4 separate regions of the Homo sapiens genome follow, and regions 1, 2 and 4 are each linked to region 3. The links come from fine-mapping of genetic effects on gene expression. A gene starts in region 3. Each other region holds a variant in brackets. All regions are shown on one strand. Distances are between the middles of the regions.

Region 1 (2,684 bases), 22 kb before region 3:
CTCTCCTCCCAGGCCCTGCCCACCATTCCCTGGCTCCTGCTTCCTCATGAAGGGTAGCACAGACGCCTCCGGCTCTGCCTCCAGTAATAATCCAGGCAGAGACAGATGGCACGGGGGGTGGAACCTGAACCTTCATTAATGAACAAATATTTACTGAGCCCCACTACAGGCCAGGTCCTATGCTAAGTGTTCAGAATATGGGAGTAAACAGGACAGATGCTGTCCTTCCCTTATGGGGCTTATGTTGGAAAACCAAAACTTAATTATGTAGTTAATGATCTGTAAACAAACGTTTAACCTTACCAAAGATGCTAGGTGACCCCTTTTGTGACATGATTAATTTTTCACCTTAGGGCTGTTTATTAATTTGGGGTTTCATGCTGGGACATCCCTCTTACAGTAGCACTGCACCACCCAGGAGGTTGCAGGTGGGGGAAGCAGATCCAGCTGAAAAAGAGGTCATCTTTGCTCCTTAAACTTGAACTTTAAAAAAGGGGAGGGCAGAGAAGAAGCATCCAGTTGAGCATCCAGTATTCAGATGATGCCAACCATGGGCCACTGCTGCTGCTGGGGTCTATAGTATAGCTAAGCCCCCGCCAAGGGGGTAGTGAGGCCAGGGCAAAGGGACCTGCAAGAGTCTGTCGCTCTGGCCTCTAATACTGGCGATTATGCACACTAACGTGTATATAATGAAATATATCCTGCTGGTCAGGTATTCAGGCTCTAAAACAAGACAGCTTAGTTGGAGTCTGGGCTCTGTCAATTACTTGCTGTGTGACCTTGGGTCTGATTAATTAACTTCTCTGTGCCCAGTTTCTTCATCTGTAAAATGGGGATGCTAACAATAGCATCTATCTCCTGGGGTTGGATTGAGGCTTAGATAAGATAACTCACGCAGAGCTCTTAGGACAGAGGCTAGCCCAGCCAACCCTCGACAAATGTCGGCAATATTTATGTGACCCTAGGGTCTAGTCAGGTGCTACAAAAAGTGGGGTTTGTGTGTAGGGACCAGTTGATGAACTACTTTTTGTTGTTGTTACTTTTTTACTCATTTGTGATAAATATAGACATTGAGTGTGAGCATTACAACAAAACTAAACTAAGCTAAACTGGATCCTCTCTCACAGATGGTTGGGGAAGCTCTGGTCTAGATCAAGCATTCTCACATCAGAGCCACCATGGTAGGTGCCTCTATGATGAGACCTCTCAGTGTCCCGTCCCTTGGTGTCCACGCCCTTGTATAATCCCCTGTCCTTGAGTATGGGCTGGACCTAGTGACTTGCTTCGAATGAACAGATTATGCAAATGTGAGAAGACAATGCTTCTAAGATTAGATTACCAAAAAAATGACATTCCATTTTCCTTGCTCTCTCTCACCCACTCCCTCTGATAAAACACACTGCAATGTTGAAAGCTTTCCTATAGAGAGCCCCATGTGCAAAGACCCGAGGGCACCGCAGGAAGAACTGAATCCTGCCAACAACCACAAGAG[C/G]AAGCTTGGAGGTAGAGGTTGCCCCAGTCAAACCCTGAGATGAGCACAGCCCCAGAGGACACCTTGACCACAGCCTGGCAGAGATTCTGAGCCAAAGGACCTAGGTAAGCCATGACTGGATTTCTGACCCCACAGAAACTGAGATAATAAGCATTGTTGTTTTAAGCCATTGTGTTTTGGGGTAGTTTGTTACACAGCAATAGATAACTAATACAGCTGTTTGTGAGAATTACCCAGGAAGATGTTAAAAAAAATGTAGACACCACTACACACCCACTAAAATGGCTAAAATCAAAAAGACTGACAACACTAGTGTGGACAAGGATGTGAGACATTTGGGATGGTCACTAGTGCCGGTGGAAGGGAAAATGGCAAGCCACGTTGGAAAACTGGAAGTTTCTTAAAAGTTAAACATAAATCTACCCTATGACTCAACAGTTTTTATCCACTCCCACGTATTTATCCAAGAGAAAGGAAAACATGAATCTGCAAGAAGACTTAGACATGGCTACTGAGAGCAACGTGACTCATCCTAGCCAAACGCTGAAAGCAGCCCAGCCTTCCACCAACAGGACAATGGAGAAGTCCATTGGGGCATATTCTTACAATGGAATATTCCTCGACCAACAAAAGGAATGAGTTTCAGGTACACTCAACAATAGAGAAGAATTACCAAAACATGCTGAGGAAAAGAAGACAGCTGTCTACGCATACATACTGCATGATTCCACTGACAGTGCTGGATCTCAGCCAGGGACAATTTGGCCGCTCAGGCGACATTTGCAGTGTCTGGAGACATTTTTGGTTGCCACAACTGGAGGCAGTGGAGCTGCTATTGACCACAGTCACCATGGGGGTTGGGAGCTGTTCCTGGAGGCCAGGAATGCTGCTAAGCATGCCACAACATCAACCCCTATCTCAGTTTGGATAGCTATAAAACTTACCGTAAACTGGGTAGCTTCGACAACAAATGTTCATTTCTCACAGTTCTAGAGGCTGGAAGTCCAAGATCAATGAGCTGGTGAATCTGGTATCTGGGGAAAGCCCACTTCCCGGTTTGCAGAGAGCCATTTTGTTGCATCCTCACATGGTTGAGAGCAGACAGCATCTCTCTCACATGTCTTCTTCAAGGGCACTAATCCCATCATGAGGGCTTTACCCTCATGACCTGATCACCCCTCAAAGGGCCCAC
Region 2 (2,684 bases), 44 kb before region 3:
TCCTTTCGAAAATGATGAGATACTTCACACAGGCTCAGTTACTATAATTTGATAGTAAATTGGAAATGTTTCTGGTACAAGGTAAGCTGATGCAAAGACTACTGAAATATTTTTATTTGGCAGTTTGACATCTCTGGATAATTTAAAATTCACTAAGATGGAGTTTTAGTGGAAAAGCAGAGCAATTATATTCTCTTCATCTGTTGATTACATTTACATGGAGAGCAATGAGTTGCCATTAGGCAAATAGTAATACTCATTGTCATGAATTTCTAGCTTGACTGCTAAGACATCTGATGCCTTTACCATTGAGAACTCAGCTAGGACTTTAATTTTTATGCCATTTGCAGTGTCTTTTTCTGCCTACTCTGCCAGCCACTCTTAATTCATTAATTCACTCAACAAATATATATGAATATATATGGAGCACCCATGAGACAGCTTTATCCCAGGCACTTAGAATACAGTGAACATAACAGACAACTCTCCTTCAAAATGTATCTCATTTCTGTAATCCCTGCTAAGTGAGGTCAAGGCTGACATCTAAGATGTTCTGTGGCGGAACCTGGCCCCCATCAGGGGCAACCTTTAATTTGGATTCTGGAAGACTAAAACTTTGAGATCCCTCCCCCGCCCCGCCCCCCCAAAAAAAAGAAGAAGAAGAATGAAAGGATGCTTCATGACCAAATGATGATGGGTGGAGTTGATAATTCTGGGATCGGGGCCCCGCCCAGCCCACCTGAAATTCCTTTGATGGTACTATAAGGCAGCTGCACAGATTTATAAGGAGCCATGTTTCCTGATTTTTGGTCTAGAATCCAAATTTTCTAGATTGGAGTAGTAGATGTTACCAAGAAGAGAATGCTGGTCAGCTTTCAGCTTATAGGAAATGTTTTGTTTTCTTTTACCCACACCAACCAAAGAGAAGAAACCAGTATGGTGAAGAGATCTCTAAAACATTTCATAGGAAGCCACTAACAAGTGCTTTGCCTACACAACACTTGGCAGGGGCTGGCCAACCTCAGTGATGAAGGTTTCCAATTATCCAAAAGACTTCTCATGAAAGAGGGATTCGATATTTTTTCTGTTTTTTCAGAGGATGGTTAGAAGTTATTTCTAATGCTTTTCTATTTCTGTACAGAAAGAAAAAATAATGACCACAGGTTATAAGGCTCCTGCTCAGATTCTCAGGGAGAGGCCAAGTATGACTTGACTTGTTGAAGGAATGAAGCCCTTACCCATCTTGTCCAGAAATTCTGTCTTAGGG[A/C]AGTGGATTAGGGTGACATCTGAAGGCCCAGAGTTTTAATATTAATAGAGAGGGGTCCAAAGGCAGAATCCATGGTTCTGGAAATGCCACGATGCTTCTGGCACTTTCTGGGCATTCTCAGCTGCCAAATTAAAGTGAAAAATAGGCCGGGCGCGGTGGCTCAGGCCTGTAATCCCAGTACTTTGGGAGGCCGAGGAGGGTAGATCACCTGAGATCTGGAGTTGAAGACCAGCCTGGCCAACATGGTGAAACCCCATCTCTACTAAAAGTACAAAAATTAGCCAGGCATGTTGGTGGGCACCTGTAATCCCAGCTACCCAGGAGGCTGAGAGAGGAGAATCGCTTGAACTTGGGAGGCGGAGGTTGCAGTGAGCCGAGATCGTGCCACTGCACTCCAGCCTGGGCAACAAAGAGCAAAACTCCGTCTAAAAAAAAAGGTGAAAAATAGTAACTTAGCTTAAAGATGATCTGCTGGTGGCCTCAGAGTTTGTTTTTAGCCAGAGAGTGCCTACAGGTTTTGAACACTATTTCATCTAGTATATCATTCATTGGGGTAGGCTTCCTAGTCATTAGTCCTATCTTACACAGCTGGCCAAACAGGTGCTGAAGGGCAATGTCAACAACAGAACCCAGGAATCCTGGTTCAGGTGTAAGTACCGTATCCACTCAGCAAGGCTCATAATTTAGATTTAATTAACAATGTGGACATCTGTTTAGAATAACAAGGTAGGAATTCAAAACCTAGCTGCTGGTTATTTACCCATTCAAGTGAAAACAGACAGAGGGAGGCACAGTTGCAAAAGACCTGATTTCCTTTTTAAAATTATCTTTCTTCTCTACCTACATGTAGCCAGATGTCATAGACTAAGTCAATAACTAAATTCCTCCTGAAGTGACTGGAACGCTGAGAAGGGACCGGTCTATCTCAGAGTCACTTTGGTGATGCTGGTGGGTGTGACATCTAGCAATCAGAACCCAGCCAATGACTCACAGGAGATCCCACCTGTACTTTGTTAGGGATGGTCTCCCCAAGGATAATAGAAACTGATTTTAAGATAAAAACAATAAAATTCTTCAATAAAAAGCACAAAATTCAGTCCAAGAGCAGGGGGCTTATGAAATGCACAAATTAAAGTATTAAGAATTAAAATAATTAAATTAAAAAGCTGAGGCCCCAGATTTCACCCTGATGGTTGAGGTGTCCAGCATTGGAACTGGCTGCACCATGGTTTTGGGACTCCATCAAGGACTGTGGCCAAAAACCTGTGTGGAATATTGTAGAAGGAATTTCTCCACATACAGTGCTCCACCCTCTACATCAGCTTGTTAAAAAGGAAGGCTCCTGGGCTTCGACCAGGAATACCGACTAGGAATGTCTCCAGGCGAGCCCAGGAATCTGCTGGTGACTCTTCACATG
Region 3 (2,684 bases):
CATTCTGTACTTTGGAAATGCATCCTGGAGGTCACAGCCTATGCAGGGAAATCCTTCCAAACTGCTTCCCCAGACCCCTTCTGCTGCTCTTTACAATGGGAGCACGGGCTATTTCCTGCACGAAGGGGCTCTGGCCATGAGCAAATGCATGGGATAAAAGCCCTCCTGTCTCCAGGGACGTCTGCAGAGACATCTTGGGGGAGGCCATACCAACCCCCTCTGACTGGCTGGAGCTCAGAGCTGCTAGGGGGTGGGGAAGAGTCCTTCAGGTTCCTCCCGGATTCAGCTCTCTAGACCCCGCTAGCTAGCTTCCCAGCTCCTGCGGGACCGCGGCCACCTCCCCTCTGGCTTTGCAGGCATTACCTCTTCTCAGCTCTGGCAGGACTTGCCCTACCCTGGCTCCACAACCACCACCCATCTCCCTCTCACAGACCCCAGTCTTCTTCCCAATTCTGCAAACTCCTCATTCTCTGGTACCTCTCAGGGTCTTCCCTAACCCTGGCGATTCCCCTCCCAGCCTCCCTCTCCTCTTACCCTTCCCAGCCCTAATTCTTATCCAGGTCCCCTTTCCTGTCCCCTCCCTTTAGGTCTCGCTGCTGGCCCCCATTCTTCTCTCAGTCCCCACAAGCTCGCCGCTCCCTAATTCTCCTTCAGGTCTCGTCTCCCCCATCCCCTAGCCTCCCCCATCCCCCTACCTTTTTGACTCCTTGACCTGTCCTCCAACGCGTCTGCTGTCCCCTCCCCGCCAAGCTTTGTCGCGCAAAGATCCACGACCGCCTCCCACCCCAGTTCCCCCTCTGCAGCTGCCCGGCAACCCCGCCTTGCCCGGGAAGGGCCTGCGCGCCGCCCCCGCTCACCTGTTGTGCAGACCCGAGCAAGCTGGGCTTCGCCTTCTCCAGGTCGGGGTCCTGGTCCCGCGGCAGCAGCCCCTTCTTGGGGTGCATGTGCCGACACAGGCAGGTGACCCCGCACAACGCGAGGATGCTGGTGGCTGTGCCCAGCGTGGCGCCCAGCGCGATCACAGGCACCGACAGCACCATGGTGCCCGCTCCCGGCGAGGGGCTGGGTCCCGCAGCCGCTCACCTTCCCCGGGCCGGGCCCGCCTCCAGGCAGCTCCCGGGATCCGGGCGAGCCAGCAGCTCTCCCGCCGCCAGAGGGGCGGGGACGGAGGGAGGGAGGACGGCTGCGAGGACGTCAGAGGAGGCTGGACCCGCAGCCACGTCAACCGGCAACCCCCTCCCCGCCAACACGTGACCGGACCCCCACCCCAACAGGAGCCGGAGCCTTCCAGGTGGAAGGAGCCTTGGGGTTGTTTCAGGCCATTCTTAATGCTTTGTGTACAACAGGGGACAACTGGGCCCAAGAAGTGCTGGAGCTTGCGGAGGTCACACTGTGTTAGAGGACAAACCTGGGCTCCAACCAGATCTGCGACTCTAGGAGTCACTTTCCCAGACTACTAGCTCCTTGCTCACCCTTCTACCCCAGCAGCTGGCCAAGCTGGCTGTAAAATTGGGTCTTCCGGGAGCTTTTTCAAACACAAAGCTGGAGATTTCCCAGCTCCCCAACCTGGGAGATGGTTCTTACAGGGAAGAGGAACAGGCCACAGGTAGAGGGAACAGATGGGATGTTTGGGTTGAGGCTGTACCTGTGTCCTGCTGAAGATGGACAATACAGCTGCATCCCCTTAAGGGTTGCCCAAGAGTTCACCTTTATTACCTAATCAGCAGGTATTCGCACCTTTATATATAGTTGAGGAAGCCGAGGCTCAGAAGAGAGGTGCACAGGTAGAAAAATCATCACCCTGAACCCAAGCTTATGTTTGCAGATTCCAAGTCCACACTCAAACGGACTTGTCTTAGGAGGATAAAGAAGATAAAATGCAGCAGCTAGGAGTACACACTTGATTCAGAGAGGGTGAGCATAAAACTATGCTTAGAACAAGGGGAAATTAGAATTCCGGGCATGAGGACTGTCTTAGCTCAAGAAAACAGTGGCTTTTTAGTGTTCTTCATTATATGGAGTGTTGAATTTAATTCAGCAGATATTTGCTGTGGGTTGGCTGTGCTCTAGGTGTGCTGGGCATGTGTGAAAAGGGATGTAGGTGATTTCATCCACAACAGAGCTTTCACATTTCTATGAGCCAATGTCTCCTAAATCTATAGCCTCTCCAGCCAGACCTTTTCCTCTGAGCTGTAGCTGTGACCACCACCTGGGAACCCACCCGTCCTCCAGTTTTTCAGCTATCTACACTTGCATAAAAACCCACCGATGACTTACTGGCTTAGACCAGTTATTGTGTTACTTGTCATGATTTCATGGGTTGGCTGGGCTCAGTTGGGTGGTTTTCCTGCTCAACATGTTGTCTTCTGGGACTGCAGTCATCTAGGGGTTCAGCTGGACTGGGACATCAGCTCTCCAGACACCATTGCAGATGGTGCAATGGTGAACTCACGTGGTGAGCAGTAGGTGCTGGCTGCCACTGGGATCACAATGGGGCTGTCAGCTGGTGCATTTTGGTTGTCCTCTATGTCACCTCTCCATGGTGCTGGAGCTGCTCACAGCATGCTGGCTGGATTCTAAGAGGAATGAAGCAGAAGCTGCCAGTTGTCTTAAGGCCTGGGTTCAGAAATTCTAGAACACTATTTGATCAAAACAATAGTCTCCCTCTAGTTCTTTCCTTCAGT
Region 4 (2,684 bases), 27 kb before region 3:
TGCTTTTTTAGGCTGCAAAGAGATGAGAGACACCATTGCTTTATTTTCAGGTATAGGTGAGTTAGGGATGATCACAAACAGGTGAAATAAATAAGTATATTTGGCCACTCTGGACCACAATACAGAAGCAGACGGGAGGCAGTATGTGTAAATAACACATGATGGCCAGTGCACAGTACATGCAGGGCACAATCAGGGGTGCCTGGGAGGCCGAGCTGGCCTTCAGGGAGGAGCCAGGGCATGACTGAGACCTTGAAAGAGAGGGGGATTTGGAAGGCAGAGGCGAAGACCGGGCTTGGGGGAGTAAAAGTCTGTGCTTCTGACAGCAGATGCTCAGGGTCCTTGGAGGAGACACACAGAGCGATGACTAATGTCCCCGTCTTTCTACCCTACACAAAGTCACCTCCACCTTCAATATCTCATATAACTCTGTATTACCTTCATCCTACTGTTTCACAATGAGGAAACTGAGGCTCAGGGAAGCTCACGATCATACAACTGACAAGTGGTATGTATCATCCAGCCTCCAGATGTTTTCACTTCAAATTTCTTGTCATTTCCATTGCCCTGCAGCTGCTTCTCAACACCACCCCCTTGCCCCCTGCAAAATCCCTGTCGGTCTTGCCACTGGATTCTAAATGGCAATCACAGCATCTCAGGGGCCCACCCACTGCCACTCCCTCCCATTCATCGGCACAAAAGCGTTCCCAGAGGCTGCTGGGCCTCAGCACACACCTGACTTAAAGTCACCCTCTACTGTCACTTGGTTGGGACCAGAACTAAGACTGTTTGGGTGGTCTGGGAAACATTTTTGTGTTTATATTTGGTTTCATCCCAATTCAATCGTCTGAGAAAAGGGCTGGGCTTCATTCCCAGTTTGATGCAATTTGGATGAATTTGCATTTTCAAGGGGGAAATAATCACTGGGCTCAGCTCTGAATGAAGTTCACTCTGTGTTGCCTCAAGTCTTGACACTCTGGCTCTGCCTTCCTCCCTCCTCAGTGGATCTCAATTTGTATGTCCCTGATAACCTCAGGAGCTTGTTACCAGAGCTTAAAATGCACCCCTAGAGCAAAAGATTGGGCATTTCTTGGTTGTCTACCAATATCCATTCCCTCTCCCATCTACCCGCCCTACACAACACCAGGTTGTCTAGGTTCCATCCCATCCCCAGCTCCCAGGAAGAGGTCAGATCCTTCCATTTCTTGGCATTATCTTGGTGACTGATTCCCAGGGGTTGGCACCAGTCCTGGGGAAACCAACCCAGATGGAA[G/T]GGAGGGACTTGGATTCCACAGTAGTAGAAGTCCCCTCCTCCCTGGACAGGAAGCGGGTGGCCCTGCCTTGTGACTGCAAGGTGAGTCAGCCTTGGGGCAGCAGAGTGGAGAGACAGAAAGAACCTGTGTCCTTGATGGCAATGTCATTAAGCTGCTCAGCCAACCAATCCAGCAATCTGTCTTGCTTCTGCATTTCAAGTTACGTGAGTAGTACTGTTCTTATTGTTTAAGCCAGTTTGAATTGGGATTTTTGTGCCTTGCAGCCAAGAGCATCCCAAACTGATGCATTGCCTTTTTCAAGCATCACAGGAGATCATGACCCTGGTGTAGAGAAACTGGGCCTAGGGTAGAAAGAAACCCTCTTGAATCTCTGCATCCAGCCCAAGGCATCCTCATTTGCTGTTTATTCTTATCCCACTTTATCCTGTGTGGCAAATGGCTGGCTTTAGCTGGGAATGACTTACAGCCTTTGCCCAGGCCAAGAGCAGAGTCTGATGACAGCTACATGAGTCTTTTCAAGGAGCAAAAGCAGCAGCTGATTACCTATCTCCTTCTCTTGTGCAATCTTATTTATTGCATTTCAAACCTGGTTCCATCACATCTTTCAAATGCATCTATATTTGCACTTAAATAGCTGAAACTTCAGTGCCAGAGAAACAGAAAATAGGTTCAGGGGTTGAGAGAGGGAGCCTGGGAGAGGGTTCTAGGTGAAGAACAAGAATGTCTGGGGGAAGGAGGTGCTCAGGGTAGCAGGGCCCTAGAGAGAGACCTTGCTCCAGCCTTCCACCATGGGTGCAGGAGGGACAGGACTTAGAATCAGATATTCTCTGTCTACGTGTCCCTTGAAGCCCAGGAATAGAGCCTGGGAAGTATATCTGCAGGATGAATGAGGGAAGATTTCCAGTGGAGACAGGCATTCAACAATTAGAGGATGGGTGCACAGCTGTTCTTGGCATTGCATGCACATCTGGATAGAAGAATCACACCCTCAGATGTGCATCAGACCCCTCAAATGCCTCCTTAGATTCTCCGCCTCACCTGTCCCTGGGACCTTTGGCTGCTTGCTCCCCCCACTGTGTCCAACCAGCTGTCCATGGGCACAGCAACACAGGTCCTCACACTGGGCTCAAGCCATGCCCCTCTTGCCTTCTGCCCTGGGACTTCTCCATGCCTGCTGAGTTATGAGACACCAGGGACACTCTGTCCACTCAGAAGCAACCCAGATGTGCAGAGAGTTAAAGCTCCATAGGGGAACTCAGCAACAAAAACCCAAACAACCTGATTCAAAATGAGCAAAGGATTTAAATAGACACTTCTCCAAAGAAGATATGCAAATGGCCAATAAGCACATGAAAAGATGCTCATCATCACTAATCACCAGAGAAATGCCATTAAAACTACAGTGAGATA

Alleles and levels. Alleles are on the strand shown, and positions count from the first base shown. SD is a standard deviation of normalised expression in the study named. Not every link is listed here.
In carriers of allele A in region 2, the expression in iPS cells of the gene that starts at base 1,174 in region 3 tends to be higher than with C alone (moderate effect, 0.55 SD a copy in PhLiPS).
In carriers of allele T in region 4, the expression in skin of the gene that starts at base 1,174 in region 3 tends to be lower than with G alone (large effect, 1.0 SD a copy in TwinsUK).

Evidence for each region. PIP is the estimated chance that this variant, and not a neighbour inherited with it, causes the effect. A credible set is the group of variants that fine-mapping cannot tell apart.
Region 1: its variant is the best candidate, but not a certain one, in a credible set for the expression of SYT13 in nasal epithelium (TOPMed, PIP 0.74).
Region 2: its variant is the best candidate, but not a certain one, in a credible set for the expression of SYT13 in iPS cells (PhLiPS, PIP 0.81).
Region 4: its variant is the best candidate, but not a certain one, in a credible set for the expression of SYT13 in skin (TwinsUK, PIP 0.77).

What each region holds. Positions count from the first base shown.
Region 1 is chr11:45,263,042-45,265,725 of GRCh38, forward strand. The region is part of intron 1 of SYT13 (synaptotagmin 13); the gene reads right to left. Among named protein-coding and RNA genes, the nearest start is that of SYT13, 22 kb to the right of the region's middle. The variant C/G (reference allele first, on the strand shown) is at 1,493.
Region 2 is chr11:45,240,876-45,243,559 of GRCh38, forward strand. It overlaps SYT13 (synaptotagmin 13), which reads right to left. Exons shown (of 6, transcript NM_020826.3): 6 at 1-2,684. Among named protein-coding and RNA genes, the nearest start is that of SYT13, 44 kb to the right of the region's middle. The variant A/C (reference allele first, on the strand shown) is at 1,268.
Region 3 is chr11:45,285,168-45,287,851 of GRCh38, forward strand. It overlaps SYT13 (synaptotagmin 13), which reads right to left and starts at 1,174. Exons shown (of 6, transcript NM_020826.3): 1 at 858-1,174. The coding sequence starts at 1,040. RefSeq lists an enhancer at 569-1,355.
Region 4 is chr11:45,258,485-45,261,168 of GRCh38, forward strand. All of the region lies in intron 1 of SYT13 (synaptotagmin 13), which reads right to left. Among named protein-coding and RNA genes, the nearest start is that of SYT13, 27 kb to the right of the region's middle. The variant G/T (reference allele first, on the strand shown) is at 1,274.